Linked DNA regions of Homo sapiens. The protein of the gene in region 4 interacts with the protein of the main gene of each other region in a pairwise test. Each region holds a gene or a part of one and is shown on either strand. Other genes may lie near its edges. The genes, in order: BRME1, OLFM2, ACY3 and KRTAP10-3.

What was found.
Region 1: the proteins of KRTAP10-3 (region 4) and BRME1 interact in a two-hybrid assay, tested with the Homo sapiens proteins (2 studies listed by BioGRID and IntAct).
Region 2: the proteins of KRTAP10-3 (region 4) and OLFM2 interact in a two-hybrid assay, tested with the Homo sapiens proteins (2 studies listed by BioGRID).
Region 3: the proteins of KRTAP10-3 (region 4) and ACY3 interact in a two-hybrid assay, tested with the Homo sapiens proteins (2 studies listed by BioGRID and IntAct).

The regions. Positions count from the first base shown.
Region 1 is NC_000019.10:13,882,114-13,889,138, reverse strand, and holds the end of BRME1 (break repair meiotic recombinase recruitment factor 1), read left to right. Parts: intron 1-3,083; coding exon 3,084-3,178; intron 3,179-3,644; coding exon of another isoform or gene 3,645-4,020; exon of another isoform or gene 4,021-4,636; intron 4,637-5,738; coding exon 5,739-5,831; intron 5,832-6,186; coding exon 6,187-6,337; 3' UTR 6,338-6,791; downstream 6,792-7,025. UniProt on the Homo sapiens protein: Meiotic recombination factor component of recombination bridges involved in meiotic double-strand break repair.
Region 2 is NC_000019.10:9,933,499-9,941,509, reverse strand, and holds the start of OLFM2 (noelin-2 isoform 2 precursor), read left to right. Parts: upstream 1-4,994; 5' UTR 4,995-5,143; coding exon 5,144-5,206; intron 5,207-8,011. UniProt on the Homo sapiens protein: Involved in transforming growth factor beta (TGF-beta)-induced smooth muscle differentiation.
Region 3 is NC_000011.10:67,647,731-67,654,849, forward strand, and holds the start of ACY3 (N-acyl-aromatic-L-amino acid amidohydrolase (carboxylate-forming)), read right to left. Parts: upstream 3,001-7,119; 5' UTR 2,853-3,000; intron 1-2,852. UniProt on the Homo sapiens protein: Plays an important role in deacetylating mercapturic acids in kidney proximal tubules. Also acts on N-acetyl-aromatic amino acids.
Region 4 is NC_000021.9:44,557,279-44,563,106, forward strand, and holds KRTAP10-3 (keratin-associated protein 10-3), read right to left. Parts: upstream 1,518-5,828; 5' UTR 1,438-1,517; coding exon 772-1,437; 3' UTR 512-771; downstream 1-511. UniProt on the Homo sapiens protein: In the hair cortex, hair keratin intermediate filaments are embedded in an interfilamentous matrix, consisting of hair keratin-associated proteins (KRTAP), which are essential for the formation of a rigid and resistant hair shaft through their extensive disulfide bond cross-linking with abundant cysteine residues of hair keratins.

The DNA.
Region 1 (7,025 bases), on a different chromosome or scaffold from region 4:
ACCTCCACAAGCCCCCTCCTCACTCGGTGCAGTGGCAGAGGGGGAGCTGGGGCTCAGGGCTTACCATTTACACAGCCAACGACTATAGGAGTCCGAGTTGCAGCTCTACTGGGTGTGGAGTCGGTGGTTTTCCAGAAAGTGTAGACCTGCCTTTTGGTGGTTGTCGACATATCTAGGGATGGTGACACACAGCTGCTTTCTCAGCCGGGCCCCCCACATTGAACTGGAGTCCCCAGGAGTGCCAGCCCCTGGCAGCTTCTGCTTCAGTGCCTGACCCTGGCCGTGGGGTCCCAGGGGATGTATTGAGGCGGGTAGACACAGATGGAGAGAAGCTGGGCCTGGGGATGGCTTTATACCTGGGCCTGGGGAGGGGGCTTCACTCCCAAGCTGCAAAAGAGCCTTTGCCCATCTCCTTAGGGTCCTCTGGGGGTCCTGATATGATTCTTTTCCAAACATACATAAGTCATTTTGTTTTTCTGCCAGAACGTGTAAGGGCTTTGCCTCCTTCAGGGATCTGCCCGCCCCACCGGCTGCCCGGATGTGGCCTCCTCTGGCTCCAGAGCCGGTGCCAGCCGTTGGCGTTCATTCTCCTGTCTGGGCAGATGGCAGCCTTGCTTCAGCCCTGCCCCCCAGGGAAAGAGCGACCTCCCTAGCCGTTGGCACACCTGAGCCTGGGCTGAGGGCATCACAGTCACGCCCAGGGAGGTAGGCAGTTCTCTGTCCACACACTGGGTGTGGCAGTGAAGACTCTGGAGGAGTTCGTGCGCCTGCTAGAGGTGAGGCAGGTGGGAGGGGAGGAGGCCAGGCTGGCACCCAGGTCATGCCCCAGCCGCCGCGTCCTGGAACGCAGAGTCCAATTTGCTTTTCAAATGTCAGCCTCTGTTTCTTTGGCTGTCCCTGTGTTGAGATGTTAAAAAAAAAAAAAAAAATTCATGGCCAGGCACAGTGGCTCCCACCTGTAATCTCAGGACTTTGGGAGACCGAGGCAGGAGAGCAGGACCAGCCTGGCCAACATGGTGAAGCCCCATCTCTACCAAAATACAAAAATTAGCTGGGCATGGTGGCGTGTGCCTCTAATCCCAGCTACTCCGGAGGCTGAGGCAGAAGAATCACTTGAACCTGGGAGACTGAGGTTGCAGTGAGCCAAGATCGCGCCACTGCACTCCAGCCTGGGCAAGAGAGCAAGACTCTCTCAAGAAAAGAAAAAATTAGCCAGGCATGGGGATGCATGGCTGCAGTCCCAGCTACTTGGGAGGCTGAGGCAGGAGAATCACTTGAGCCCAGGAGTTTGAGGTTGCAGTGAGCCGAGATTACACCACTGCACTCCAGCCTGGGTGCTGAACTCCCTGTCTCAAAAAAAAAAAAAAAGTGAGTCACAGTGTGGTTCAGTGGTAGAGGCTGAACACGAGCATGTGGGAAAGGCAGGAGTTCTGGTGCTGGGCACAGCTGAAATTTTATGAGAGCTTCATGCCTTGCAAAATGCAAATCCCTCGCTTGAGAGAAGAGCCGCCTCCATTGCCTCCAGTCTGTGGTCTCGTGAGTGGTGGCTTGGAGAGAAGGCTGGGAAATGGTTAAGGTGTTTGGGGCCAGGTGTGCCTAGGTGGCATCCAGCAGGTGAAGCCCCTAGCCCTCCTAAACGGGCTGCCAAACTGCAAGCTTGGAAAAAGACCCTGAAATCCAGACTTGGGGGGATCCAGACAGACAGCCAGGCTGGTCAAACCCGACCAGCATTAGCAGCCTTTCCCCAGCCAGGGGAGGAGGCACCGCCCTGACAGCACTGCCAGGGCCTGGGCGTGTTTGGCTTTGACACGAGGCGTTCCCCAGCAAGTTGAGGCGACCCAGGCAAGGAACACATTCCCGTGGGAAGGTTCCGGGTGGCTCCCGGCAGGAAGGCCGAGGCCCGTGTCTCCCAACATGGGCAGGGGCACGGGGAACAGCAAAGATGGATCGAGCGGGCCGTCTCAGCACCTCCTCCTGACCTCACTGTGGCCACACACTGTGCTAGAGGAGGGGACTCAGAGGTGACACAGCAGAGACAGAGCTTTCAAACCTCAAACCAAGGTCTCGTCATGGGAGGGTTTGGTGTTACTTTCTCATAGATCCTTTGCACTCACTCTTGGACTGATGGAGCTTCTGCAATCTGCATATGGAGTCATTTAATTTAAATTTTAGAGACAGGGCCTTGCTCTGTCGCCCAGGCTGGAGTGCAGTGGCACAATCACAGCTCACTGCAGCCTCAACCTCCCGGGCTCAAGCAGTTGATCCTCCTGCCTCAGCCTCCCAAGTAGCTAGGACCACAGGTGCGTGCCACCATGCCCAGCTAATTTTTTTTTTTTTTTTTTGTACAGACAGGGTCTCGCCGTGTTGCCCAGGCTGGTCTGGAACTCTTGGCCTCAAACAATCCTCCCACCTCAGCCTTCCAAAGTGCTGGGATTACAGGTGTCCCCAGCCTGGCTCATTGCCTCTTTTCTGAGGGACATCATAGGTCACCACTGTAACGGAGCTTAACATTTTCCATGGAAATTAAACCACCATTGACGCTTAGAAGCTTAAGCGCCGTGGAGTTACCAGGCTTTCCCCTGTATTCACTGGGAGTTTTCCCCTCGTGTTATATTTGCAAACTCCTTTCCTAACAGGATGTCTGTGGCACATTCAGCCAAGGTAGACGACTCCACTTCACCGCAGTTGCCCCCGCTTTGTGTTTTCTCTGTACCCGTAAAGACAGTGAGGGGCATGCAGGAGACTGCAGTGGTGTCAGGGCCAGAGATCATGGCACAGTGGTGCCCCCACTGCCCAGATCAGCCTGTGGGAGGCCCGGGCCTAGGAGCGGACACCAGGGTTGGCTGTGGCCTTTCTCTTTCCAAGGGGAAAGGACGGGCGCAGCCCAGGCTGGTAGCCTCGGGTCTACCCATCGTGGATTTCCTCCCCGTTACCGCTCTTCCTCTGCAGGAGTCCCAGCCAGCCCCGATGTGACCTGCTGTGGCCGCGGTGAAGCCAAAAGCATCAGCGTGACTTCTGGTTCCCCTGTGCAGAGCTTGCCCGACCCAGGCCTCGACCACTCACACCTTGTGCTCTCTTTCCAGCTCTTTCCTTCGGGGAACAAGCCGGGCCCTTGCTGGCCGGGCCCCAGCTCACATGCCAATGGAGACCCTGTTGCAGTGGCCAAGGCCCAGCCGAGGTAGGTGTGGCGTGGGTGAGAAGTGGCTCCAGGACCCTCACAAATTTTACCAAGGAGGGTGACAGATGGAGGAGACAGACCCCAGTTCTCCCTCCCTGGGCCTCGACTTCCTCAGTCCAGCAGGGGAGCTGAGCCCTGTCTTTCAAACTGTATACATTCCCCTGCTCCCCGAAAGCAGAGAATGGGCGACAGTGACCAGTGATCGACACCCAACCCAGCATCTCCCCACCCAGAAGCTCCCCAGGAGCCCTGGGACAGTGCCTCCGGCTCTGTGGGCTCTTTCTCTCTGGGAAGAGGGGCCAAAGCTTCCTCCTGAGTCCCTGGGAAGGGGAGGGGACCCAGACAGGGCTCAGAACTGTTGGCTGAGACCATCTTGGAGCTGTTCCTAGCTCTGGCACCAGGCGGGCACCCGAGTGAGTCTAACCTGCCCTCACCTCCTCCCCTCCCCACTTGGCTCTTGCCCTAGGCGAACCACCTCCTCCCTCCCACAGGCCACCAGTGAGCCGTCCTCCAGCCTGCTGTGTGTGAGGAGGGCACCCTCTCCCCCGCACCATGCCCGGGGTCTCCGCAGCCTGTCCCCTCCTCCCGTGCCCTCCCACAGCCCTCCTCGAAGCCAGCGCTGGGTGGCTGCCCTCTCTGTTACCTGGCACTTGAACCTGCCTCTCTGCAGAGGCGGCAGCTTATCAATTATTTATGGCCAAGTTTCTGTTTCTGTCTGGCAGGGGTGGAGGAGGGTTTGGGACTCAGCCCTTGGCTGTGTGTGGCCCCCACACCCTCCTCCTCCTTCTCCTCCCCTAGCAGAGGGCGGCTCTGTCCCTGCCTCCTGCCGTCACTCCCTGTGACTTGTACCTGCTGTGCCACTGGCCACCTCCCTTAGCCACACACACAACCTGCACGTGGACCAGAGGCAGTTCATCAGAGCGGCCCGCTGTGGTTTGAGTGAAGAGCCGGGAGGGTTCACATCTGAATCTCCGACAGCGTCCCAGGGCCAATGCAGCTCCCCTCCCCACCGTCCTGGATGTCTGGAAGCTCCCAGAGGGCCCCGGGTCTGGTTTGGTGGCTTGAGGCTGAATGACACACACAAGAGGCTAAGACCCAGGGGCTGCCAGACACCTCAGGGTGACCAAGGCAGGAGCAGCAGGACAGCAGTTTCCATAGTGACAGCCCCGGAGGTGCTGCGAAGCCTGGGGCATGGGCGGGTTTAGGGCGGGTGGCCCCCACTTACCCGCCTGGCCACCTGTACTGCCTGTGTCTGAGAGTGGCACCTGTTCTGTGGGGTGGGGGAGGTGTTCTGTGGCTCCTTGGCTCTTCCGTGATTTTTTTTTTTTTTTTGAGACACAGTCTTACTCCCATCACCCAGGCTGGAGTGCAGTGGTGCAACCTCAGCTCACTGCAGCCTCGATCTCCCAGGCTCGCATGATTCTCCCACTTCAGCCCCCTAAGTAGCTGGGATTACAGGTACCCGCCACCACACCCGGCTAATTTTGTATATTTTTTTTTAGAGATGGGATTTTGCCGTGTTGCCCAGGCTGGTCTCAAACTCCTGGATTCAAGTAATCCACCTGCCTCAGCCTCACAAAGTGGTGGGATTACAGGCATGAGCCATCGTGCCTGGCGGGATATTTTTTAGATAGAGTCTTGCTCTGTTGCCCAGGCTGGTGTACAGGATCATAGCTTACTGTAGCCTCCATCTCCCAGGCTCAACTGATCCTCCCACTTCATCCTCCTGAGTAGCTGGGACTACAGGCGCGCACCACTATGCCTGGCTAATTTTGTATTATTTGTAGAGATGGGGGTCTCACTACATTGCCGAGGCTGGTCTTGAATTCCTGGGTTCAAGCCATCCTCCCACCTTGACCTCCCAAACCTTCCAAGGATATGAATGCCATCTGGGCTGGCCTTTCTAGCACTGCCCTGGGTGCTGGGGAGGCAGTGTGGGACAAAACACAGAGTTGAATGCTACTGGGGGATTCGGGGTGTGGGGACATGAGAGACAGCAGATTAGATAGTCAGATGGCAGAGTGTTGGGGAAAAAAAGGCAGCGGAGAAGGGGTTAAAATGTAAGGAGGAATCAGGGAAGCCACCACCAGGAGGAGACATTTGGGAAAGAACATTCCAGAATCCTGAGAGGTGCTCAAGGAATGGCCAGGAGTCTAGTGTGGCTAGAGCCGAGGGGAGGGGAGAAGCGGGGGATGAGGGGAGGGCACGGGGCAGGCAGGTGGTGCACAGCTGCGGGAGGAGAGGGCTTGCCTCTGAGCTAGGTTTCCAAGTTCACAGCCCCCAGTGCCTGTGGGGGACAAGCCACAGGGGCAGGAGATAGGGAGGCGGTGGCAGCAGCGTCCTGAGAGGGCAGGGCAGGTAGGGGAGAAGCGGTTGGGTTCTGGGCCTGCTGGGCAGTGGAGCCAGCTGGGTTGGCCATCAGGGTTCTGTCGTGAACAGAGGAGGACAGGCTGGACACCTGGAAAAGATGGCGCGAGGCCCTGCGGAAGCCCCTCCCACTGGAGAGCTCTGGTAGTCCAGTGAGGTCGGGCCACTCTCAATTTCCTTCCCTGCTGGCCAGGACCTTCGTGGGGATCCAGGCCTCTGAGGCCTCCAGGATGGAGGATGCCACCAACGTCGTGCGTGGCCTCATCGTTGAGCTCTCCAACCTGAAGTACGGGGTGGGCTTGGACTCACGGCACAGGGTCTGCGGGAGGCCAGTGGGGACTCAGAGGAGCAGGGAGGGACTGAAGTGTGAAGCCCCTAGGTGGGCAGCGAGGGTCAGGCACCTCACTGCTGCTGGGTCCTCACCGTGGCCCCCCTCCCCCGTCCTTTGCAGAACACAGGCTCTGAAGAAAGGCTGCAACAGGCCCAGCCTGTGCTACAACAGGCCCTTTCTGGTTATGTGCACGTGTGTGAGCCGTGTGTGTGCACCTGAGTCATTGGTGACCATGTGGCTGTGAGGCGCGGCCCCCTCTGTCACCTGGTGACCACTGAGCCCCACACGCATGCCTGTGTTTCCCCCACAGCCGGCTGATCATGGGCACCCACCGGGACCTGGAAGCTTTCAAGCGCCTTAACTACCGGAAGACAAAGCTGGGAGGCAAAGCCCCCCTGCCTTACCCTTCCAAGGGGCCTGGGAATATCCCTCGAGGGGACCCACCCTGGAGGGAGTTGTAGGCCACTTTGAGGTCTGTGTTTCCTTTGCCACCCAGCCCCCATGTCCGCAGACCTCCTCCAAGATGCTCCAGGGGGTCCTAGTGGACCCTACAAACCTCCCTTCAGTTGCCCGGAAGTTGGTCTTCCATGGACAACACAAAGGAGGCCGTGAGGTCCTGGCCTCACCTGGCCAGGGTCAAGGTCATTTGCCACCCTTGGCTTCAGGGAGGGAAACTGTGTCTCCCACAGCCCCAGTGACTTCAAGCGGGCCTGGGCTCCAGGAAGCTGGCCACCTCTGAGCAGGGCCCATCCTGTCCGGATTTGCAAATTTTAGGGTCCTGAGCCAAGTATGGATGGTTCAGAATTTGTTTCTTTCCTGGAGGAGAAGAGAGCTCCCTTTGTTTTCTTTCTCCCCATTTCCATTTTATTTCTTCTGGGAAGACCCATAATAAATGATTCTGTAGAGGCCCCGTGACCTGCTGTTTGGGGCTGAGGCTTCAGTTCCTTCACCTTCCGCCCACAAACCTCTCTACCCACTTCCTCCTCCTCGCCCTCTACGAGTTTTATGCCTCAGCTTCCCTGGGAAAGCAAGGGGGGGGCGAATCTCCAGGGGTGGGTGACTGTGTGCCCACATCTGTGTGCAGGCTCTTGAGCATACACGCGGGTCGAAGCCTAAGAGACGCCCTGGGCGATCATCCAGCTGCAGGGT
Region 2 (8,011 bases), on a different chromosome or scaffold from region 4:
AATAATATATTCAGGGATTAGCAAGAGCAAAGGTATGTGTTGGCAGGCATTCACTTCATGATCATTTTCTCTATGAAGTGGGTGGTGCAGGGTGTGAGGAAACAGATGTGGGCTGTGAGAGGGTGACAGGAACCCATGGCTGTCCAAGTTCCTGTCTAATTGGCTGTCCAAGTGCCAATTAGAAAAACCCAATGGCCAGATGGCAAGATCCAACGCCCTGCCTCCCTGCTTCCTGTCATGGAGAATGACCTGTGCCCAGTGCCAGACCCTGAGTCCCCAGTTCATCCATTTTGCCACAATAGATCCTTGAGAAGCGGATCCTGATGTCTCTTCAATGATGGCCCACAATTCTGACCACTGCACCATAGACAGTGCACTCTTCTTAACATTAACCACAGTGCTGACCTTGAAGCTGATATCAGTGCAACTAGGATGCTGAGTGTGACTTTGACCTTAGTATGACTCAATCATAATTTTGACCATAGCTTGGCCAGGTCATTATCCACAGCAAGCTCAGGACAAGGACCATAGCACTAGGACAGAGCACAGCATAACCAGGAAACTGACTGTAGTACTAATCACCACACTGACCACAACACAACCAAGAATGACCAGGAGTGACCACAATTCTGACCACAATGCTGACCCTGGCAGAACCAGGATGTTGACGGCAGCACAGATCCCGGTTCAACAGGACACAAACCACAATGCCATCAGGACACCCAGAGGGCCACTAACCATACCAGTCAACGACCAACGGCATCGAATGCATTGACTAAGGTCCAGTCAGAAAAACAGCCCATCCCAGCAAATTCAATAGAAAGAATTTAATATGGGGACTTTAATTAGCCACACACTGAGGTATTAGGTAGGTAGGTTTGTTTGTTTGTTTGCTTTTGTGGGGTTTTTTGAGACAGGGTCTCACTCTGTTGCCCAGGCTGGAGTGCAGTGGAGTAATCATAGCTCACTGCAGTCTCGACCTTCTCAGGCTCAGATGATCGTCCCACCTCAGCCTCCTGAGTAGCTGAGACTACAGGTGTGCACCACCATGCCTGGCTCATTTTTGTATTTTTGGTAGAGATGCAGCATCTCTACAGAGATGTTGGCCAGGCTGGTCTTGAACTCCTTGGCTCAAACAATCCACCTGCCTCAGCCTCCCAAAGTGTTGGGATTAGAAGTGTTAGCCATGGCACTCAGCCGATAGGTAGGTTTTGTTTTTGTTTTTTTCTTTTTTGAGACAGAGTTTCACTATTGTTGCCCAGGCTGGAGTGCAATGGCATGATCTCAGCTCACTGCAATCTCTACCTCCTGGGTTCAAGCGATTCTTCTGCCTCAGCCTCCTCAGTAGCTGGCATTACAGACACCTGCTACCATGCCTGGCTAATTTTTTGTATTTTTAGTAGAGACAGCATTTTGCCTTGTTGGGCAGGCTGGTCTCAAACACCTGACCTCAGGTGATCCACCCACTTCAGCCTCCCAAAGTGCTGGGATTACAGGTATGAGCCACCGCACCTGGCCCTATTAGGTTGGTTTTAAGCGCAAACTGGAGCAGGTGAATCAACTCTAGTTGCTAGCTATCATCTTTGCAAGGACTGAAACAACAAAGGGAGGTGGTAGTTACCTGAATCCAGGAGCTGCAGTTACCTGGCCAGTCACCTGCCCCCACCCCCCACCATGGTGGGGAATACCTAATGGGACTGAGACCACAGAGGAGGCACAGCAGCCATGGCTAGAGACACTCAAAGTGGAGGGGGGGAAATTCTCTGGCTTCTCCTTTCTTGGCACCCTCCAATCTGCCTGTAGACCTCCCATTGGCTGAGCCTAACCAGATGCAAAGAAGCCTGGGAAATGTAGTGTGTAGAGAACCTGAGAAAGATAATTTGCAGGAGCCATTGCCCTGATACAGAGGGGAGCAGGGGGAAAGTGGGGAATAGATCTAAGTGCATATCGACCAAATTCCAACCATATAACACAGGCTGTAGCTTAGTTGTAACTGTGATCGTCTTAGTGACCAGAGCCCAAGGAGGACACTGTTCATGGTCCTGAAATGCAGCATTCATGAGTCAAGAGTGCTGACTCTTGACCGTGAGACCCACTCTTGGTCAAGAGCTTGTGGGTCCTACCAACCAATGTCCTCCTTTTATGCAATGCCAACTGCAGGCTTGGCCTGAAGGGCCCACAAAGGACTGTCTCCCATTTGGGAAAAGGAGATAGAAGAATAGGATGGGTGCGGTGGCTCATGCCTGTAATCCCAGCACTTTGGGAGGCTGAGGCAGGTGGATCACCTGAGGTCAAGAGTTCATGACCAGCCTGGCCAATATGGTGAAACCCCATCTCTACTAAAAATATGAAAAATTAGACAGGCCTGGTGGCAGGCACCTGCAATCCCAGCTACTTGGAAGGCCGAGGCGGGAGAATTCCTTGAACCCGGAAGGCAGAGGTTGTAAGCCGAGATCAAGCCACTGCACTCCAGCCTGGGTGTGACAGTGTGAGACTCCATCTCAAAAAAAAAAAAAAAAAAAAGAGATAGAAGAATAAACAGGATGTCTTCGCAGGCTCAGACTCTATTTTGTGTCCACATCCCATGATGAGTGTCCTCAACCCAGTGCATGGTTGGTTATTGCAAGGCGTGCTGGGGAGTGAGTGCTAGCTAGGTGCTCTCTTTGCTTAGAGTCACAGATGTCTCCCAATAACTGCAAAAAACAGGTCTTCTAAGAGGGGGAAAGCTTTTTCCCTAAGGTCACATGGCCAAGAAGTGGCAGCACCAGGGTTGAACCCAGATCTGTGGGTCACCAAGCTCTTTCTCATTGACCTGACAAAACCATCATCGACATGTTTTATCCCCAGTAGGGTTGAGACAGGAATGATCCAGGGTGGTCACAGGCAGCCGTTTCACATGACTAGAGGCTATGGGCTGATAAGATCCTGAAAACCAGGGTGTGGACCAAGCTGGCTAAGACCTACTGGACCCAACATGGCGTTACATTCTACCTAGGTTTCACCTAGGATCTCATTATGTACTCATTAAAATACTAAAATTACCCACCCACCAGCGCCCTTGACAATTCCAGGGACACCCAAATTTGGTGTAAAAGTGGGTGGCACCACAGTCCACCTTTTTCCAGTTTTCATGAATATTCCATCCCTTGGTTAAAGAGATACACAGTGGCCTGTTGTGGTGGCTCACGCCTGTAATCTCAGCACTTTGGGAGGCCAAGGCGGGTGGATCACGAGGTCAGGAGTTTGAGACCAGGCTGGCCAATATGGTGAAACCCTGTCTCTACTAAAAACACAAAAAATTAGCCGGCTGTGATGGCGCACACCTGTAATCCCAGCTACTCAGGAGGCTGAGGCAGGAGAATTGCTTGAACCTGGGAGGCAGAGGTTGCAGTGAGCCGAGATCACACCACTGCACTCCAGCCTGGGTGACAGAGCGAGACTTTGTCTCAAAAAAAAAAAAAAAAAAAAAAAAAAAGAGACACATAAAGGTAGCAGTCCCAAACCACCTTGCCCATCTCTCTCTCTTAAGTACGCCCACTCCCTTTTCTCAAGTGTGGACTTTTCCCTTAACAAAAAAATCTCCGAACTTTTCATGATTTTCTGATTCCTCCTTGAATTCATTCTTGCGATGGTGTTAAGAGCCTGGACACCAGCTGGGGTCGAGGCCCCACCAGCGTCTGGGGAGACCCCTCCTAGCCCAACAGTATCAGGGTCACAAAAATGCCAGGCTTCCTGGCCTCGCATATTTTATGCCCGATTTCTTTCCAATCTGACTTATTTGCCCGCCCCCCTCCTCCACCTCTGCCTACATATATCCGAATCCCTAGAGGGGCTGTGGGGAGGAAAGACGACTAGGGACACTTTTTTTTTTTTTTTTTTTTTGAGACAAGGTTTGCTCCTGTTGCCCAGGCTGGAGTGCAATGGCACGATCTCTGCTCACTGCAACCTCTGCCTCCCGGGTTCAAGCGATTCTCCTGTCTCAGCCTCCCGAGTAGCTGGGATTCCAGGCATGCACCACCACGCCCGGCTAATTTTTGTATGTTTTAGTAGAGGTGGGGTTTTGCCATGTTGGCCAGGCTGGTCTTGAACTCCTGACCTCAGATGATCCACCCTCCTCAGCCTCCCAAATTGCTGGAATTACAGGCGTGAGCCACCGCGCCCGGCCTAGGGAGACTTTTGGAGGAGTGAGAGGCAGAGAAAGGCTGGAAAGCCTCCCGAAAGTGAGGCTAGACAAGGACGCCCTTCATATGCAAATGGCTTCGCGTGGAGGCGGTGTTAATATTTTGATTCTCTCGGGGGATGTGGTCTTTCATCTTGGGCTATTGAAACAGGGAGCGAAGAGAAACTCTTCCAGGTGTGGCGGAGGCGGGGAGGCTTCCAGCGGGAGGACTGGTGGGGAAATGGGGCGCCCGGGGAGAGTGAAAACGAGACGCCCCTTTTTGAGGCCAAGCCCACCCACGTGGCCATTTCCATTGGCCTCTTGCCTGATTCTCGGTCTCCTGTCCCCCCAACCTCAATTTTTTCCTCTTATTCCCCGTCTCCATCTATGCCTCACCCCTCTTGTCCTGGCATTGACCCCTCCTCCAACTTCCAATTTCAGATTCTGCCTCAGTTTCCCTGTTGACTCTTGAGTTTTTAGGGAGGGGGCGTTCATCATTTCCCCTCTCTGCTACCAGGCCTTCCTCCTATTCCTCTCCCCCAACCATTCGTCCCCGTCCCACCTGCAACGTGGGAAATGCCCCCGGAGGGTGAAATTTACAAACACGTGACGGGCACCCCTCCCCCACCTCCGCGACCCGCTCCCGGAATGGCCTGGGGGTTGGGGGGCGCTGCCAAGTCCTGTCCTCAGGTCCCCTCGCCGGCGCTGGCTCCCCCACTTCCCCGCCCCCACCCCCCCACCCGACCCTGCTCGAGCTGCTCCCGAAGAGGAGCTGGGGGCGGGGCGGGGGGCGGAGCCCGCAACAAAGACTCGGAGCGAGCGAGGGGGCGGGGGTGGGGCGGAATCCCGGCCGCCGGCGAGGCGGGGGAGGCGGCGGCGCAGGGTCGCCCCGGCCGGGCGGGCGGGGTCGCGCCTGGTGGCGGTCCCCGCGCCGAGGCGCCGCTAGGGCGGGCGGGGGTCGGGACGCCGGGCTAGGGGCGCGTCATGTGGCCGCTCACGGTCCCGCCGCCGCTGCTGCTGCTGCTGTGCTCAGGCCTGGCCGGACAGGTAGGGGCCCGGCGGGCAGGTGCGGGCGCGGGTGGCTCCGGGAGAGGAGGGGGGCGCGGAGGGTTCCCGGAGAAACGGGGTTGGGAGGCTCCACAAGCCCCCCCAGCTGCAGGGCGGCGAGGGGCGGGGGTCGCAGCGGGGGAGGGGCCGGGACGTGCACTCTCTGGCTTGGGAGAGGACGAGGGGGGCTTCAAATCCAGCCTCAAGCTGGGCTGGTTTGGGGGGTGGCGTCTTTGGGGTTCTCAACCCCTCCATGGCCCCGAGCCCCCACCCCGCCATCTCGCTGGAGCTGAATGGGGTTGGGAGGGAAACTTCAGGGGGCATTGGAGGGGGGCGGTTGCTTACCCTTGACTTCCTCTTCGGGGCCGAGATGCCCAGTTTCTGAAGCCCTCCACTCCTCGCCTGCAGCCCCCAGTGTGGGGCAGGGGACGGGACTCACGTGAGAGTGACTGACGGGGACGCGTGTGAAATGCTGTGGGGGTGCAGGGTAAACGTGTGTGTCTTTGTGTCGTGGTTGGGTGTGACCGGGGGGAGTTTGTGTGTGTGGCGGTTGGGGGGCTTGTCCAACTAGTGCCCGAGTTGGGGTGTGATCAGTACGTGAGACAGAGTCTGTGTGTGACCGTGTCCTCATTACTGGCTCCAGATGACTGGGTGTTGTACAATACGTGTGTGGCCAGGTGTGTGGCCGTGTGAGAGCCTTGGAGTGAGCGTGTGCTATTCTGTACCTTTGGGTAAATCACTCTAAAAGGGTGTGTGTGTGTGCAAGCGCTGTGTGTGCAAACGTGTCCATCCATGCACGTGTGTGTGTGTATCTTGGTGCCTTGCTCACAACCGCACACGCCATTCATACCCTTACAGAAGCGGGTCTCCCTCCCCATGGCACCTTTCTCTTGGGCAGGCTCAGGGAGGCTTGCAAAATGTGGGGCGTCCACGCTCTCTTTTGCTATTGGAAAGCCCCTCTCCTCCTCCATCTTGGGAGTGAGAGCACCCCCAAGTTCTCAGATCTGTAGGAGTTCACAGGGAAGCTGGGATCAAAAATAATAAAATAGTCATTATGATAACAGTGATCATTCATTACGTGCTAATTTGAGAGGTGCTGTTTCAATCACACAGCACAGACTAAGGCATTTAACCCCCTCTGCCTCCTCCCTACTAGAGCATGGTATTGTTACCTCATTTTATGGATGGGGAAACTGAGGCGCAGAAAAGTTAAATCACTTGCTCAAGCTCGAGAGTGACAGAGGTGGGACTGAACCGAGGCAGTCCGGCTCCTGAGCCCACACGATTACCCTCTTGTTAAATAATCCGCTCCATGGGTGTGGACAGCGTCCGTGAAGACATTGCTAGGTGGGCTTTTAGGTAGATAGGCAGGGGAGAAACAATTTGGGCACCTTCCCCTTATCAAGAAAAGAATCAGACCCTTGTGCTCACCCCGAGGGGGGTGTTGGGAGGAATGGAGGTTAGACTCCAGATAGAAGGATTTCCAGGCCACGAGGAGAGATTGTGGGGTCCCCTCCCTCGCTCCTCCATTTCCCCACGCATCTCAGCACCCACGCGCTGGGTGGGATAGGGAGTGTGCCCAGCCCCAGGCATGAGGACACACACAATAGGTACTCAATGGATGTGTGAGCCTGAGAGAAGCCAAGAGACACACCTGGGAGACGAGAGACCAAAAGAGGCACACACTTGAGAAACCAGTGGAAAAAAAATGAGCCAGGAATCAAGTTGAATTATCCTTGACCTAGCAGAGGAGACAGAGAACCACCCCCTGTGGCTTCTCCTCCACTCCCTGCTAGGGGGGCACTAGATTTTCTGGCTTCTCACCAAGATTGGCTAGGATGCCAGAGTTTGCTGCCAGAATTGCAATTGGAGGGTGACTCCTACAGCCCCCAGGGCTGGGAGGGAGTTGCTTTGGGGGCGGGACTAACGAGGTCAGTGGAGGCGGGGCTAAAGGACAACGGGGGCGTGGCCAAATGAGGTAATCCGTTAGGGCGGGGCTGGTGGAATCCTGCCGCGGGCTGCAGTGCCTCCAGGCGGCCACCGCGGGAACTACATGGTTGTGAAACAGTCTCGGCGCCCCATACACCCCCTTGGCGTTGGCCCACCAAGCCTGGCACCCCAGGGAAGGGAGGGGTCTGCAGAGAGGATGCTCTACCCACTCTTCGCTCCCTCCATCACTTTCCAAAGACTTCTTCCCTGTCCCTGATGGGCCCAGGGGTCCTTCCTAGAAATCATTGGTTAATCCATTCAATGAACAGATATGATTATGCACTGGGGATACAGCCACCAACTGAGTCATCAAATCCCTGCTCTCCTGGAGTTGACCTAGCAGAGGAGACAGAAAAGAGCCGAATAACCATGTAATACGGTGTCGGCAACTAAATATACATATAATACAATGCAAGTAGCATGAAGAATAACAGATAAAGTATAGAAGATTAGACTGGAGCCGGGTGCTGTGGCTCACGCCTGTAATCCCAGCATTTTGGGAAGTTGAGGCAAGTGGATCGCCTGAGGTCAGGAGTTCGAGACCAGCCTGGCCAACATAGTGAAACCCTGTCTCTACTAAAAATACAAAAAATTAGCTGGGTGTGGTGGCAGGCGCCTGTAATCCCAGCTACTAGGGAGGCTGAGGCAGGAGAATTGCTTGAACCTGGGAGGCAGAGGTTGCGGTGAGCTGCGATCGCCATTGCACTCCAGCCTGGACAACAAGAGTGAAACTCTGTCTCAAAAAAAAAAAAAAAAAAAAAAGATTAGAGTGATAGCAGTCGGGCATGGAGGCTCACGCCTGTAATCCCAGCACTT
Region 3 (7,119 bases), on a different chromosome or scaffold from region 4:
CTTGTGCTGCCACGGCCCAACGAGTCCAGGTCCTGCGGGCAAGTTCCTGCCCCTGCCCTTCGTCCTTCTGCTGGGCCCCAGAGGGGCCACCTTCCTTAACACTACTAAGAGGTACACCCGCAGTGGGGTGGTGACTTGGTTTTGGTCACCACCAGAGCAGGCTATTGAAAGTTACTATAGAGGTGTCACCTTGATGGCCACCAAGATGACAAGCTGCCCCTCCTTCACCACCTCGGCAACATGCCTCTGTCCTTGCAGCCCGGAGAGGGCTGTGGTCACTCCTGAGTCGCCCTTACCCAAAGGTGCCATGTGGAGCCCCAGTTTTACAGCTCTTTGTTGCTTTAAGCAAAATTTTAAAATGTTTGATCCGGGATTTCAGTCATTTTCAAGGACAGTGTAACTCAGATGACTCGGTTTGCCCTGTTTTGGGAACAACCCTCAGGCTCATTTTATAGATGTGAAAACTGAGGCTCAGAAAATTGTCTGCAGGCACACAAGCCCTAGAGGCAGGCTGCAGGTGGCCCACAGAACCCTAGGGGCAGACTGTTCAGCGGCACACAGAGCCCTAGAGGCGGGCTGCAGGTGGCGCACAGAGCCCTAGAGGCGGGCTGTAGGTGGCACTCAGTGCGTCCAATGTGGCTCCATCCCCTCCTGCTGCCTCTCAAGAGCAAAGTGGGGAAGGATGAAGGTGAGGTCCCCTGCACTCAGCCCTGGGGCCTCTACCTCCCACCAGGCTCAGCTGTCTGCTGGGAGGAGCTGAGGCCAGTTCCGAAGTCACTGGGGAGTGAGGCAAGCTGCTCCGCCAGGGCCTGCTGGATGCCAGGTGCTGGGACCCTGAGCTGGAGCCTCCCCCAGGCATCGATCCTGGGCCTTCTTTACCACCACACTGGGTCTCCCCGGGCCAGTCCAGCCCTGCTCCAGATGCCAGGCCCACCAGCCTGGGGGGCTCTGGGTGGCCAGGACCCTCTAAGTTACACCCTCTCGGAAGCTGCCCCAGATCACACTCAGCTCTGTGTGGCCTGGGCTCTCCTGCCCTCCACACCCAAGGCTTCGTGAGCTCAGAGCATGGCGATTGTGGGGACAGGGGATTTGTCATCCTGGCTCCCATCAGGGCAGCTGGGATCTTGACAGGGTGTCAAGAGGGGTGGATGGAGTGTGAGGCTGAGCCCCCAGTGGGCCGGGGCTCCCTATGAGCCCCCTCCAGGGGCCACTCCTCCTGGCACCTGGAGCCTCAGCAAAGGGAGGGCAGAGACTGCCATTAGGGGGCCATGCCATGCCATCAACTCCTGTATCCGGCCCAGCCCTGGGGGCAGCTGTCACCGGCTCCATTTTGCAGGTGTGGACTGAAGCTCTAGGGGTTGGGTGACTTGACTGAGTCCTTGGCAGGTGGTGGGAGAGGGAGTCAGCAGAGGAGCCTGTCGGCCTGGGTCTGTTCCTTCCTTGCTTGGGGTAGGGGTCTCAGGGACCCCCATGCTGCTTTATGAGTCCCAGGCCATGGTCTTTGTTGGAAGGCCCCCCCAACCCCCACAGAGGCTGGGATCCTGCTGACTCGGTGTGGTACCTCTCAGGAAGGAAGGGCCTCCGTGGCAGACCTAGCTATTTTGGGGGCTGCTGGGGGCCAGGGTGCTTCCTGCCACAAGGTGCTGGGCCCCCAAGTTTAGGGAGAACAGCAGTAGGGGTGCTGGAAAGTTTCACTTCCCTTGGCTGGGGTCCAGCTTCTGCATTTCAGTGAGTGTTTATGGAACAGAACGGGGTCCAGGAACCCTCAGAAACAGCAGCCCCCAGTCCTGGCAGTGTGTGCGCGTGTGTGCATGTGTGTGCATGCATGTGTGCATCTGTACATGTGTGCGTGTGCATGAGAGCATGTGTGTGCGTGTGTGCACTCACATGTGTACGTGACAGCATGCGTGTGTGCGTGCGTGTGTACATGTGTGTGCATGTGCATGAGTATTGTGTGCATGTGTGCATGTATGTGTACATGTGTGCGTGTGTGCATGAGAGCATGTGTGCGTGTGTGCGCATGTGTGACAGCATGCATGTGTGCGTGTGTACGTGTGTGCATGTGCATGAGAGTATTGTGTGCATGTGTGCATGCATGTGTGTGTACATGTGTGCGTGTGTGCATGAGAGTGTGTGTGCATGTGTGTGCATGTGTGCATGTGCTTGAGAGCGTGTGTGCGTGCATGTGCGTGAGCATGTGTGCGTGTGTGTGTGTTGTGTGCACACGTGTGACCTGGCTCTGGCCCCACCTCCCTGACAGGCTGTGTGACCTGGAGAGATTCAGTGCCCTCTCTGGGCCTTGGCTCCACCCTGTGAAAGTCCTGGCCAAGGGCAGCTGTGGGGAGTGAGGAACAAAGGGCGGGCACAAGCTTGAAAATGGGCACATGGAGACCCCAGCATGAGTGAGGGCAGAGGATGGTGATGTCATGGGCATCATCACGGGGGCCAATTTCCTCACTGCAGTTGGGGAAACTGAGACCCAGAGAGGGGTCAGAGCTGTGGTTCCCCCCTGTGTCAGCATCCAATTAGATCATGCCTCCCAGCATCACCTCATTGCAAGATGCAATCAGATCACGCCTCATTACCCTATGCTTATAAAACCTGCCCCAGCCCTCAGCTCGGGGAGACACTGCTTTGGGAGCTGTCTAGGTGTTCTCCTTACTTGTTGCAAGAAATAAAATCCCCTATTAAATCCTCTTTAGTTAACACCCGCCAAGCAACTGAGCCCACCCGTTGTGTGGGTAACAAAACTCTGGCGACCCAGATGGGGCCGACTGGGATTCTGATCCTAACTTCTTGAGGCTCACTAAGGTAAAGCAGTGGGCCGCGGCACCTTCCCCGGGCGAACTCACCCACGTGGCCCCAGAGGGTTGAGGGTGACTCCCGGGGATCTTCTGCTTGCTGCGTGGCCCGTGGGGCTGTCACTCCGCCCTACCCCCGAAACAGCGGAAGCAGCTGCCTGGAGCTTTTGTTCTGTGCTGCTCCTTCAGGGAAGAAAGTGGACTTTGCCCCGTGGGTTGACTGAAAGGGTAAATTCTTTGGACCTAGCAGTGGGATCTCTAGACTTCAGCGCAGGGCACCTCTGCTTTCGGTTTCTGTCTGGCTCTACGTGCCGTGGGGGATTGAGAGGCATCTCTGGCCAGGCCAAGGGCAACCCGGATCCCGGATCTGGGTAGACAACAGTGGGACTAGTTTTGGGAATTCGTTTTTTTTTTTTTGAGACAGAGTCTGGCTCTGTCACCCAAGCTGGGGTGCAGTGGCGCGATCTCGGCTCACTGCAAGCTCCACCTCCCGGGTTCACGCCATTCTCCTGCCTCAGCTTCCTGAGTAGCTGGGACCACAGGCGCCCGCCACCACGCCCGGCTAATTTTTTGCATTTTTAGTAGAGACGGGGTTTCACCGTGTTAGCCAGGATGGTCTCGATCTCTTGACCTCGTGATCCGCCCGCCTCGGCCTCCCAAAGTGCTGAGATTACAGGCGTGAGCCACCGCGCCCAGCATGAGAATTTGTTCTTTTTTAGAGAAACAGAATTTTTCACAGGAGGCTGAGCTGCTCCATCTCCCAGAGCCCCTACTTGCCATACCCCGGGTTACCAGAAACAGGAGCTCTGCCATTTGATGAAAAAAATACTTTTTTCAGATAAATGTTTTTGTCATATCATCACACAAAGCGGGTAAAGTTGTATATATATACATACAACTTTTTACAAATATGTGATCATATGTACAAAGGCTAGAAGGAAATATACAGAAAAATATGTATTAAAATACTGGTTTTTTTTCATTGTTTTATAAGATACTCTACAAAACATTACAATGAGGTAGGACTATTTTAGTGCTAGAGAATCTCATTAAATGAATTTGTTCAAGAGCTTCTTTGTCAGCTGGGTGCAGTGGCTCACACCTGTAACCCCAACACTTTGGGAGGCCAAGGGGGGCAGATTGCTTGAGCCTAGGTGTTCAAGACCAGCCTGGGCAACATAGGGAGACCCTGTCTCTACCAAAAAAAAAAAAAAAATTAGGGTGGGCGCGGTGGCTCACACCTATAATCCCAGCACTTTGGGAGGCTGAGGCGAGTGGATCACCTGATGTCAGGAGTGTAAGACCAGCCTGGGCAACATGGCAAAACCCCGTCTGTACTAAAAATACAAAATTTATCCAGGCATGGTGGTGGGTGCCTGTAATCCCAGCTACTTGGGAGGCTGAGGCATGAGGCAGAGGTTGCAGTGAGCCGAGATCATGCCATTGCACTACAGCCTGGGCGACAAGAGCGAAACTCTGTCTCAAAAAAAAAAAAAAAAAAAAATTAGCCAGGTGGTGGCACACACAGCTGTGGCCCCAGCTACTCAGGAGGCTGAGGCGGGAGAATCACTTGAGCACGGGGAGTTGGAGGTAATCGTACCGTGAGTACAGTGAGCCGTTATCGTATGGCTGCATTCCAGGCTAGACAACACAGTGAGACCTTGTCTCAAAAGAAAATAAATAAATAAATAAATAAATAAATAAATAAATAAATAAATAAAGAGCTTCTTTGTCAATATCCTTTTGTGGGTATACATCATAGTCCCACAGTACTTCTTCAACCCAGGGAGATAAATGTGTATTAGTCTGAAGACCCAGGAGAGAATCTTCAAGACTTGGCACTGTCACTGATGATGATCTGCTTCCTTACATTATGACAAATGTATTCCCAGCTCCGGCTTGTTCTGCCTCATTAAGAGAATATTTGAAGACATTATTCATGATAGCAGCATCAGCATTTTGCAGAAGAAACCCTGGGGACAGATGTCTGCATGAAGCACCTTTATTCTGTGAATAAACTGGTATTTTTTAATGACCATTTCCTGCAACTGGCAAAAGTCTCCGTTCAGTTCTACTCCACAGGGTTGCACTGCTAAGCTATAAGATCACCCCATAAAGACTGTGCTGAGCCTGGAGCTGACGTCAGCCACAGCCTTTCCTGATTGATCAGGGAGTGCATGAAGATAAATGAACTTCAATTCCATGAGGGAGAAGGAACGAGCAATCGGTCTAAAGGTTCTGTTTGGTGTGAACCACCCAGTAGTTTCTGCTCATTTTCCCTTTGTCACATAATGAATCAATGAAGTCTTTATCACAAAGGAATGCGTCAGCGTGAATGGTGGGTTCTGGCTGCTGCTGTAGTTTTTGAAGGGTTAGATGTTCTGAGGAAAGCATGGTTTCTAGAGGCAAGCAATTCTGAAGGTCTTCTGCAGTGGGTTTTTTTTTTTTTTAATTTTGAGACAAGGTCCGGCTCTGTCACCCAGGCTGGAGTGCAGTGGCTCGACTGTGGCTCACTGCAACCTCCAACTTCCAGGTTCAAGCAGTCCTCCCATCTCAGCCTCCCAAGTAGCTGAAACTACAGGCACGCACCCAGCTAATTTTTTTTTTGAGATGGGGTCTTGCTATGTTGTCCAGTCTGGTCTCAAACTCCTGAGCTCAAGTGATCCACCCCCTTCAGCCTCCTAAAGTGCTGAGATTACAGGCATAAGCCACCACACCCAACCTTTCTGCTGTGTTTTTAAACACAATGTCTTTATTTCCTTCAGTGAATTCATCAAAATCTCGGGCAGTTTGCATCTGCTGGAGCAGTGCCGGGCGGTCGGCAGAGCCACAGTATAGAGCAGTTACAAGATTTCCTGCCTTGCCGAGTGAAATCTATGCCTTCCAATTTTTTTTAATTAATTAATTTTTAAAAAATTAGATTGGTACAAAAGTAATTGCAGTTTTTGCCATTACTTTCAATGGCAAAAACAGCGGTTACTTTTGAACCAACCTAATATTATAGAGACAGGGTTTCACCATCTTACCTAGGTTGGTCTCGAACTCCTAAGCTCAAGTGATCCACCCACCTCGGCCTCCCAAAGCGTGGTGATTATAGGCATGAGCCACCATGCCCGCCCCTCCCCACCAATATATTTTTAAAACTAGTTGAGTGTGGGCCAAGAGTTGTGGGATCTGTGTCACCACCAATCCCGCCTCTAAGCTGCTGGGTGGGTAATATGGGAAAACAGTAATTGTAGCAGGACTCCAGTGGCAGAAGCCATGCGGATAAACTACAAAAAGCAGAAGGGACACTGGGGATGCTGACATCTCCATTGGTTGAGATTACCCTTAAGGTATTGAGCAACTGTGGCCAGGTCCAGGAAGGGCAAAAAAAAAACAAAAAACAAAAAACAAAAAGGCAACACAAGACAAGAAGCCATCGAGTCTCTTGGCTACAACCAGCCAGTACACAAGAAACAGTTCACTGCGGCCAGGCGTGGTGGCTCATGTCCGTAATCCCAGCACTTTGGGAGGCTGAGGCGGGAGGATCACCTGAGGTCAGGAGTTCAAGACCAGCGTGGCCAACATGGCTAACCCTGTCTCTACTAAAAATATAAAAAATTAGCCAGGCATGGTGGTGGGCACTTGTAATCCCAACTACTCGGGAGGCTGAAGCAGGAGAATCGCTTCAACCCAGGAAGCGAAGGTTGTAAGCTGATATCGCGCCATTGCACTCTAGCCTGTGCGACAAGAGCAAAACTCTTTCTTGAAAAAAACAAAAAACAAAAAAACAAAACAGTTCACTGGAGATGATCAGCCATAAGTAAGATCCCTAGGGACCCCACTGCCCGGCCAAAGGGCCTCCCGCCCTTGAGAACACAACAGTGTGCATATTGTAAACAAGAGGGCCATTGGGTACTAGAGTGTCCTAACTGTCCCCAGTGGGTAGGGAAAGAAACTTCCCCGTCAATCAGCCCACCAGATGCTACAGTTTGCTAATAGTGACCAGAAGTGATGGGACTTGGGGACTCCTCTATGATCTGGGAACCCCTAGATCGGGTAACAATTGCTGTGGGAGAGACTCACGGGTTTTCCGACACTAGAGCCAAATTTTTGCCTGTCTCCTTTCTACCGTGTTCTTCCTAAAATTTAGGAAAGGGCTTCTGCTGTATGGGAGAGATAAATTTTAGCTAAAATTGTTAGTTGGACGGAGACAGAGTTGGAACTGTCTTTTAAGTAGTGAATTTTACCTGACCCATGGCTAAACCTTTAAAAGTTAAAGCTATAGGATCGTTATTTGTATCTGGTAGTATGTACACGTCCGGTTATATTTGGC
Region 4 (5,828 bases):
GTTACTCAGCTGCAAACAGTGAAGCACACAAGGAAACGACACCATGAGCGAGAACTGGTGGAAATGACAGAAAGCTGAAATGGACCCACAGAGACTTCAGGCATTGGGATGACCGTGCACAGATATTTGAAATAAGAGATCAGCTCTAAAATGTCTTCCAGGAATGAGAAATATTTATTTTATTTAATAAGAGAGGGCTGGTGAGAAGATGATGAGTGGGGGTCAGACAGGCAGAGGAAGGAGAGAGGGGGAGGAGCTGAGCCCAGGGAGAGGCCGGGCCGGGTGGGTGTGGGGGATTCACAGAGAAGCACCCCCGGGGCCTGGAGACGCTGAGGCTGGCAGGAGAACCCCACAACAGCAGACCCCGCACAGCGGGAAGTCAGGACTGCCTCCGCCCCTGGTGCTGTCAGCCTGGATGCAGCTCAAGGCCAGAGTCCCGAAGCTCCCACCCCACGCGGCACGTTGAAGTTCTTCCCACAGGGTTTGCCAGATATGCAAAAAAGACCTCTGAGAGGGCACATTGGTGACTTTATTTGTTGACAGACTGATCACTCACATGGGGCAGGACACAGTGACCACCGGCTGGCCAGCATGGAGATGAGGGTGTGGGAGAGATGCATGCCTGGAGGGAATCGGCATGAAAGCTCAGCATTGCTGGCTGGAGGTGCAGTGGCTATGGGCAGAGGAGACTCAGACAGGGCTCAGGGCTGCAAGGATTTTCGGAAGTCAGAGATGGCCCTGGAACAACTCTGGAGAAACGGGACCTGCCCGTCAGCAGCTGGACTTCTGGCCTGAGGAGAGGCCGCAGCACGCGGAAGAGAGGCGGGAGCACGTGGGGCGGCAGAGGAGGGACACGCAGGAGGCCGGGCGGCAGCAGCTGGGCTGGCAGGTGGAGGCAGGGGCACAGCAGGAGGGGATGGGCACACAGCAGGTGGACCTGCACACGGGGCGGCAGAGGAGGGACACGGAGGAGGAGGGTCTGCAGCAGGAGGTGGTGCAGCAAGCCGGCTGGCGGCTAGACTGCTGGCAGCATGAAGAGGAAGCCCCAGAGCAGACGGGCACACAGCAGATGGGCTTGCAGCAGACAGGCTTGCAGCAGACGGGCACACAGCAGACTGGCTTGCAGCAGACAGGCACGCAGCAGGCCTGCTGGCAGGGGGAGGATGTGCAGCAAGCTGGCTGGCAGCTAGACTGCTGGCAGCACGAGGGCGTGCAGGAGCTGGTGCAGCCTGACTGGCAGGGGCTGGGCTCACAGGCCGCCTGGCAGCAGGGGCTGGACACACAGCTCACTGGGGTGCAGACCAGGGTCAGGCAGGGGGCCGGGGCGCAGCAGCTGGTGGCGCAGCAGGGGGGCTCACAGCAGCTCTCTGGGCAGGCGTCCACCTGCCAGGAGTCAGAGTAAGCGCTGGAGCAGACGGACATGGTAGACGTGGCCATGCTGGGGTGGGGAGGAGGTGAGCTGGGGGAGACGTGAGTGAGTGAGTGTGGGAGTGAGTGAGGGAGTGAGTGAGTGATCGTGCCAGGCCTCTGAGTGGTCGGAACCTTTATACCCCTCTGTGTTGATTGTGCTGCCCCTGCCTGGCTTCGAGAAGCCTTCCTCTTCCTTGTTGTTGTTGTAGGCACTGTTGTGTTAGTAGTGTTGGTTCATTGTTTGTGGATGTTCTGGTTTGTGAGGCTCCTGACTGGAGTTAGGGCTTCCCTAATGTGGGCTTGTCCACAGAGATAAACTAGTAGAAATATATTGATTGCATCAAAGCACACTGCAGAAGCAGGGACAGTGGCAGTTAGGAGATATTCTGGAATTGACAGCCCTCTGCTCCATCCCAGGAGGAGTTTGCACTTAAAAAAAGACTTCTACACCTAAGGAGGGATGAGGTTAGGAGAACCTCAGTTTCTGGGCCTTGAGGAAAGGGAGAGATGTGTTCTGCTGTGGACAAGTTTGAAGATGCTCAGTTGGCCTGGCCACACGGCGAGATCCACCCTGTGGGTTGACACTGCTGGTTGTCAGTGGGAACCATGGGGCATATTTCTGCTGGGGGTGAGCCCTGGGGCAGGTGTGAGGGAATAGTGTCTTCCTGGGCAGAGATTGGCTCGCAGAGGGGAGCAGGGAGGCAGCTGCAGGCCCAGCACAGTAGGGATGGAGATGAGGGGCAAGCACCTTTGTTTCATTTCACGTTGAACTGTTATGGGGCCTTCCCCCGGTGGTGTGCACAATAGTGTTCACACCTTCTCCTCTCACATCTCGGGCAACATCACCTGCAATGGTGTCCTTGGGAGCTCCAAGGTCTCTTCCCTTATGGGCCAGAAAGTCATCAGAATGTATTAGTTCTACTGTTGGCTCCTGGACATTGTCATAGTAAATGTACAAATAAAAGGGTCTGATTGCAGAGCCTTGTCTCACAAATACCTATACACCTGTGTGTATCAGCCCATGCCTGTGCCCGGGACCATACCTGTGCGCTAGTAAGCCCCCAAAGTTCTGATCATGGATCCCTCATCTCCTCACTCTATGATCGCTATTTTCTACTAAATCTTTGAAATGGCAAAGGCAGAGGCTCTGATGATGCTCTAGGCTGCAGGGCTTTCCAAAATTAGGCCAGGGGTCCACTGAGTGCTTGGTGGGGGCCCATAGGCTGCAGGGTTTGAAGCCTCTGACCTTTGATGAGTATGGCTAAGGGCTCTGTTGGAGGACTACCTGGCAAAGTCAGACTACAGTGGAAAAATATTATTTCATAGAAATAATAGCTGGACACAGACTGGCAAATTGGATGAAGAGTCATGACCCGTCAGTGTGCTGTATTCAGGAGACCCATCTCACTTGCAAAGACACACATAGGCTCAAAATAAAGGAATGGAGGAAAATGTACCAAGCAAATGGAAAGCAACGTAAGCAGGGGTTGCAATCCTAGTCTCTGATAAAACAGACTTTAAGCCAACAAAGATCAAAAAAGACAAAGAAGGGCATTACATAATGATAAAGGGATCAATTCAATGAGAAGAGCTAATTATCCTAAATATATATGCACCAAATATAAAAGCACCCAGTTTCATAAAACAAGCTCTTAGAGACCTACAAAGAGACTTAGACTCCCACACAATAATAGTGGGAAACTTTAACACCCTGCTGTCAATATTAGACAGATCAATGTGACAGAAAATTAACAAGGATATTCAGAACTTGAACTCAGCTCTGGATCAAATGGACCTAATAGACATCTGCAGAACTCTCCACCCCAAATCAACAGAAGATACATTCTTCTCAGTGTCACATGGCACTTATTCTAAAATTGACTTTATAATTGAAAGTAAAACACTCCTCAGCAAATGCAAAAGAACTGAAATCATAACAAAGTCTACCGGACCACAGTGCAATCAAATTAGATCTCAAGATTAAGAAACTCACTCAAAACCACACAACTACATGGAAATTGAACAACCTGCTCCTGAATGACTCCTGGGTAAGTAACGAAATTAAGGCAAAAATCAAGAAGTTATTTGAAACCAATGAGAACAAAGAGACAATGTCCCAGAATCTCTGGAACACAGCTAAAGCAGTGTTAACAGGGAAATTTATAGCACTAAATGTCCACATCAGAAAGCTGGAAAGATCTCAGATCTACACCCTAACATCACAATTAAAAGAACTAGAGAAGCAAGAGCAAACAAATCCAAAGGCTAGCAGAAGACAAAAAATAACTAAGATCAGAGCGGAACTGAAGGAGATAGAGACATGAAAAACCCTTCAAAAAAATCAATGAATCCAGGAGCTGGTTTTTTGAAAAAATTAACAAAATAGATAGATCACTAGCTAGACTAATAAAGAAGAAAAGAGGGAAGAATCAAATAGATGCAATAAAAAATGATAAAGGGGATATCACCACTGATCCCACAAAAATACAAACGGCCATCAGAGAATACTATAAACACCTCTACAAAATAAACTAGAAAATCTAGAAGAAATGGGTAAATTCCTGGACACATACACCCTCCCAAGACTAAACCAGGAAGAAGTTGAATCCCTGAATAGATTATAGCAAGTTCTGAAATTGAGGCAGTAATTAATAGTCTACCAACCAAAAAAAGCCCGGGACCAGATGGATTCACAGCCAAATTCTACCAGAGGTACAAAGAGGAGGTGGTACCATTCCTTCTGAAACTATTCCAAACAACTGAAAAGGAGGGACTCCTCCCTAACTGATTTTATGAGGCCACCATCATCCTGATACCAAAACCTGGCAGACACAACAAAAAAAGAAAACTTCAGGCCAATATCCCTGATGAACACTGATGTAAAAATCCTCAATAAAATACTGGCAAACTGAATCCAGCAGCATATCGAAAAGCTTATACACCACAATCAAGTCAGCTTCATCCCTAGGATGCAAAGCTGGCTCAACATAGGCAAATCGATAAATGTAATCCATCACATAAAGAGAACCAATGACGAAAACCACATGATTATCTCAATAGATGCAGAAAAGGCCTTCAAGAAAATTCAACATCCCTTCATGTTAAAAACTCTGAATAAACTAGATGTTAATAGAACATATCTCAAAATAATAAGAGGTATTTATGATAAACCCATAGTCAATATCATACTGAATGAGCAAAAGCTGAAAGCATTCCCTTTGAAAACCAGCACAAGACAAGGATACCCTCTCTCATCACTCCTATTCAACATAGTATTAGAAATTCTGAACAGGGCAATCAGGCAATAGAAAGAAATAAAGAGTATTCGAATAGAAAAAGAGGAAGCCAAATTATCTCTGTTTGCAGGTGACATGATTCTATATTTAGAAAACCCCATCATCTCAGCTCAAAAATTCCTTAAGCTGATAAGCAACTTCAGCAAAGTCTCAGCATGCAAAATCAATGTGCAAAAATCACAAGCCTTCCTACACACCAACAACAGACAAGCAGATAGCCAAATCATGAGTGAACTCCCATTCACAATTGCTACAAAGGGAATGAAATACCTAGGAACACAGCTAATAAGGGATGTGAAGGAGCTCTTCAAGGAGAACTACAAATCACTGCTCAAGGAAATAAGAGAGGACACAAACAAATGGAAAAACATTCCATCCTCATGGATAGGAAGAATCGATATCATGAAAATGGCCATACTGCCCCAAGTAATTTATAGATTCAATGCTATTCCCATCAAACTACCACTGACATTCTTCACAGAATTAGTAACTTTCCAAAATTATTGAAAAACATTAATCTACATATCCAGGACCTCAGAAAACTCTAAGGTGGAGACACACAAAAGATACGCAAACAGACATATCATAGTAAAAATACTGAAAGTCAAAAACAAGGAGAAAATCTTGAAAGCAGCAAGAGAAAAACAAGTTATTTATAAGAGAACCATAAGAAGAGCAACAGTTCACTTCTTATCAGAAACAATGGGCACCAGAAGGTAGTATGATGGTACATTCAAAGTGCTCAAAGAAAAAAAAGTCAGCCAAGAATTCTATATCCAACAAAGTTGTCTTTCAGAAATGAAGGCAAAATAAAGGCATTCCCAGATAAATCAAAACTGAGGGAATCTATTACCTGCAGATGCATCTTACGAGTCATACTAGCGTTCCGCAGACCAAAAGCAAGTAACTCCAGACAGAAATTCAAATCCACACAGAAAAACAAAACAGCAGTAAAACTAATTATGTAATTATAAAAAGTAGTACAAATGCATATTTTCTCCTTTATTCTCTTAACTGATTTTTAAAAAGCAATATAAAAAGGTATATTTGGTGTTGTTGGGCCTATAACATATAGAAATCTAATATATTTGGCAATAATAATACAAAGGAGGTACATGGAAA